Linked DNA regions of Homo sapiens: region 2 is linked to region 1. A link means that fine-mapping ties the variant in region 1 to the expression of a gene that starts in the linked region. Tissue or cell type: whole blood. Region 1 holds a variant in brackets; the other region holds the start of a gene. All regions are shown on one strand. Distances are between the middles of the regions.

Region 1 (2,760 bases):
GTGAGGGTGTTGTGTCTCACCAGCCTCAGATAAGTTGGTAACCAGTGCAGAGTAAACCTGCCTTGCACAACTCATTAGCATAACAGGCTCCTATAATTCTAAAGATTTTTGAAGCTCTGTGCCAGGAACTGGGGTTGAAGACCAGACATATTCTTTATTATATCACAGGCCACCCCCTAGCCTTTTCAGCAAAAGGATCATACCTGTCTGATCATCCACATTTGGTGTAGCATTTATATAACAGATACAGCAATAGTACCAACATGAATATGCCTAATATTTGGAGAAGTCAGTGTGGGGTAGGGATAGGAGGTCTTAAATCCAATTTTGCAATACATTTGGCTATCAGTTTCAGTACAGTATTATAATCTTGCCAATAATGGCTGTATTATATCAAATTGAGGTAGATGTAATATGAAATATAAGAGTAATCAGTTCATTATCATATACTATGACCAAAATGTCTCCCACAGAAAGGCCACCCAGGTGTGCAGGCTTCCATTCAATCTTGTTAAATTCCAAAAGCAGGTGTGGTCTCAGCAAAATATGGCTTCATCCTTTCAGACCTCTGGTATAACCATATCATCCCTTGCTCTGGGTCTCTTTCAAAGTGTTAGCATAATATTGGATTTCCCTAATTGGGTTATTCATTCCATACCCTCAGCTATTATTCTTCATTCTCTCATTTATACCCAAACTTTTCTACCTTTGGAAGGGACATTAGGAGAGGCCACTGTGCTAGTCCAGATTGCTGGCAACAATAGTAGTTTAACAAGTGCCTCCCCTTCAGTCCACTCCAATTTATATAGATTAGGGCTATATAGCTACAGGACTAATGGACTATCTTAGCCACTGGATGATACAGCAGCATTTACTGTCAACTCAAATTTTGCCAGATGGGTTGAGGGCACAACTTAACCTATAGGGTCCTTAGAAATGCTGAAATAAAGATTTAAAGGTATAGTTACAATGTCTTGCCTAGGAATTATCTATGCTTCTGGCACCTGCAGATGTATCTCTAGTCCTGGAACCTCTGCATCAGATGGCAAAAAAGAAAGTTGAGGTGATGTGGGCAAGAATCATATAGTCATACCAACACCCTCCCTCAACCCCTCTCCCCTAGATTTTCCTAGAAAAATGGAGGAATCTCTCCAATGGGGATTCTCCCTTGGCCCCCTCATGGTGCATGTGAGCATACCCTCATGAAAACATTTAAACAAGTGCTTCATAACTTTATCCCCTCCCCCATTTTACTTGATTTTTAAATTTTATTTTCTTATTTTATTTGGTTTTTTTTTTTTAGAGACAGGTTCTTGTTTTGTTGCCCAGGCTGGAGTGCAGTGGCATGATATCTCACTGCAGCTTTGAACTCTTGCGCTAAAGTGATCCTCCCGCCTCGTCCTCCCAAAGTGCTGGGATTATAGGCATGAGCCACTGCACCCTCACTCACCTCATTTTAGACAATGAATGTTTCAAGTGCTCATTCCAATTCCCTATTAAACTGCTACTCTGAGGATGACAATGCAAC[G/A]TGGTATGTCTGTTTGATGTGATATCTCTTTGTCCACTGTTGGACATCATGGGCTGTAAAGTGTGACTCTTGGTTTGAAGAAATGTAACTTGGTGGTCCAAATTAGTACAGTATCTTTTGTTCCAATAATTTAATAGTATTTTCAGCATTCGTATCTACCACTAGGTGTGCAAAGCCCAGTCCAAAGTAAGTGTCTATTCCTGGCCGGGTGCAGTGGCTTACGCCCGTAATCCCAGCACTTTGGGAGGCCAAGGCAGATGGATCACCTGAGGTCAAATTTTGAGACCAGCCTGGTCAACATGGTGAAACCCAGTCTCTATTAAAACTACAAAAGAATTAGTCAGGTGTGGTGGCAGGCGACTGTAATCCCAGCTACTCGGGAGGCTGAGACAGGAGAATCACTTGAACCCAGGAGGAGGAGGTAGCAGTGAGCGGAGATCACACCACTGCACTCCAGCCTGGGTGACAGACCAAGACTCCATCTCAAAAACAAAAAAACCAAAAAACCAAAGTAAGTGTCTATTCCTGTCAGACCCCATTTGTAGCCCCCAGGGCTGCCAGCATTTGTTCAATGTAATCTATCTACCAGCTATGTGTGAGGCCTTCCAACGGGGGAATGTGCCCCAGGGCCACCTGCATTCTCTGTCTCTCTTGCTGGCAGACAAAACAGTTCTTGTTGGCATTTTGTGCTTCAAAGGGTGCAAGAGGAATATGTCTAGATCTCTACATTGCCACAGTATTCTTAGGTCCACTCATTCCATGGACCCAGGTGGCCACCTCAAGTGAGCACACTGGGAAATTCACTCACTGGTGCCAATCACCTTCCAATCCAGGAAAGTGATTCTTCTATTGGGCATTGATATGTCCTACTTTAATCTATCCCTCAAATTTCCATAGTGATTTTCTTAGGGGATCCCTTTAAGAGGGCAGTTTTCTATTGCTCTTCAGCCTGACCATATGATCACGTCAGTATGCACCACCCATGAATCAGTAAAAACCCAAATGTAGTGGCAAACAGAATGCAATAGCCTATAAGGTAAGTTGTTTTTACCTTCTTAGCCTTCCAAACAAGATGCTGCACATTCACCTTGGAACTGCGATTATAAACCAAGAAGCTCTTTGCTGTTTATAGGACACTCTCCAGGTAGCAGTAGAATCTGACAGCTCCAGCCAGGTGCTGTGGCTCACGCCTATAATCCCAGCACTTTGGGAGGCCGAAGAGGGCGGATCAC
Region 2 (2,500 bases), 41 kb before region 1:
GATTAAAATACAAATTCCTCATCCTGCTTTACAAAGCCCACTATGCTGTAGCCAGCCACTCTGTATTTCATCAGTCTCTGAATTGGCCAAACTTATTCCTTTTGCAGCTGTTTCTTTTGCTTGGAATGCTTTTGTACATGATCTTTGTGTGGCTTAAATGTCAGCCCCTCAGACACCTCGTTACCCAGTCATATTACATCACCGCTTATTTTCTGTAGCACCCTCACCACTATTTCATCTTTCAGCCCATCTCCAGTGCTGCAACGTGGACTTCCTGAAAGCAGAGATCTTTTTTTTTTTTTTCTCACTGCTGTCTAGTTCGCCCTCAAACAGTGCCTGACTTATAGAAGTGCTCAGTAAATAACAGTGATTAAATGAATGAAAAACTGTGAAGTCTGACGATTATCATATACCTAAGTGAAGACAGAATGGACAAATGAATATGCCACTATACGGTTCTGGCAAGAGGTATAGGTTAACAAAGAAAAATAACTTCAGGATTAAAACTATATTAAAAGCCACAGGTCTGGATAAGATCATCTAGGATGAAAAAATAGTCTTTTTAAATCAATACACCATTTATTAACCTGAGCAGCAGAGAAGGGGCTCGGAAAAGCACCTGCTCTGAGACCCTTACTGGAGCCCCAAAACTTCTCTCCTTAAGGAGCCCTCGGGGAGAGAAAAAAGCCTTCCAAACAGGCTTATGCCTTACACCCCCCCCCCCCCATTCTCCGTCTGTCTCCGAGCACAGGGGCCCCACGCACCTCTGGGGGATCCATCCTGGGGTGCGGCGACCCTCTTGGTAAGCAGCGAGCGCCTGGGTCCGCCGGCCTGGGTCTGCAGCCCGTATGAGAACTGCGGCGGGTCGTTCCAGCCGCGTTCCTTGTTGCCTGCGGAGGCGAGGGATGTGTGAAGCGAGCCCGGAACTCCACTGTTAGCTTATACTGGGGCTGGGGGAGACAGAGGGTCCATACTAAGCGCCGCAACCGCCCCCAGCCTAGGCCGGGGCGACAACCTAGTGCCCTAGCCCGCCGGCTGCGCTCACCCGGCTTCACGTACAGCTCCGCCATCTCCACTTCCGCTTGGCCAGCGGGGCAGCGCGTCATTTCCGGGGCGGCCCCTCACGCGGGCCAGTTGAGACACGTCCAGGGCCAGGCGGGTTGCCGGAATCCGTGGAGGATGGATGCTGGTTCACAACCGTCGGGAGCCGCTGTGGGGACCCTGCGGCAACTCCCTAAGACTCGAAGGCTCCATCTAATGAACCATCAGGGCCCTGGTCACAAGGCACCAAAGGAGGTTGCTGTCCAGGAGCCAGTGCTCTAGGAGGCCTCATCCTCTCAGGAGCAAATTCAAACAAAGAAGCTCCTGCCCCACATACACCCCGCTGTGATCTAGCCAGGTTGACTTCTACAGCCTCCTCTTGCATTGCCCTGCACAATCTCCACATTCACGTCCGGTAGCCTCACTAGTACTCATCTTCCTTCAGTTCTCAGTTCAGATGTCAGTTCTTCAGGAGGCCTTCTGGAATGTCTCAGGCCAGGTTAAGTGTCTCACTTGAGCTCCCACGACCCTACAACCCTCTGAGATTTCGTAGGTGTATTACATCACATCTTCTGCCTTATTTGACTCTTGTTCGTTTCCCTGTCGGACAGTCTTAGAAGGTGGGACCTTGACTATTTTATTACATTCCCAGTGCCCAGCTTAGTGCCTGGCACAGGGAACTCCTTAGAAAATATGTTTGTTGAATGAAGTCAGATCTCCATCACACCCATGCTGTCATGTGACTACAGAGAGCCACCAACATCAAGCACAGACACAAAGACACTCATCTCACACAGGGTGTTAGCCCCCAGCCCTGTCCCAGGCCCAATATACTCACATCCAGTGAGGTCACTGAGGGATTTTTATTTGCACTGATTTTGCTATAAAGTGTTACTGAGGTAGAGCCAACTGTCCAGGGTTGGACAGGGGCAAGGAACACAAGGACCCAAGGAAAGGGGAGCCAGGGTCCTACGTTGTGGTGCAGTGCCTCCCAGTCATCCGTATAAACAATAAATTGGGCAATAAATAGACGGTGGACAAGGATCGGAGGGACAGGCAGAGAAGGCTTCAAGGAGTGACAGGCTATAGGCCTTGAGGAATAAAACGGTACAGAGTTAGGCATGGACCCAGAGCCTACTTCCCCAGCCTTCCCAGATAAGTTTAGGGCATATGGAGCAGAGAGGGTTTCAGCCGGAAGGCATCAAGAAAAGAGAAGACACCCCGCTTTCGAGGGGTTGCCCCTGCACCGCCAACCCCTCCTTTGAGCAGGGGGAGGGGCAGGGGACCTCCTGGGGAATCCATGGAGCTGGTCCGCTTGAGCCGCAGGCGGGCACGGGCCTGGGCACCCCAGGCCTTGCCTCGAGCTGCAGAGGCCACAAGACACTTCTGGTACTGAACCTAGGGAGAAGGGGAATGTGAGGATCCAGCTACTTTCTGCCTCTAGACTCCCTGAAAGCTT

Evidence for each region. PIP is the estimated chance that this variant, and not a neighbour inherited with it, causes the effect.
Region 2: SRA1 starts here. The variant in region 1 is fine-mapped to the expression of SRA1 in whole blood (INTERVAL, PIP above 0.99).

The regions. Positions count from the first base shown.
Region 1 is chr5:140,596,923-140,599,682 of GRCh38, forward strand. It overlaps a transcript of TMCO6 not described here. Among named protein-coding and RNA genes, the nearest start is that of SLC35A4, 33 kb to the left of the region's middle. The variant G/A (reference allele first, on the strand shown) is at 1,529.
Region 2 is chr5:140,556,383-140,558,882 of GRCh38, forward strand. SRA1 (steroid receptor RNA activator 1) reads right to left here and starts at 1,091. Exons shown (of 5, transcript NM_001035235.4): 1 at 1,046-1,091; 2 at 765-890. The coding sequence starts at 1,070. APBB3 (amyloid beta precursor protein binding family B member 3) reads right to left here. Exons shown (of 13, transcript NM_133173.3): 13 at 1,886-2,439. The coding sequence ends at 2,203. RefSeq lists enhancers at 324-1,145, 1,011-1,370, 1,461-1,520.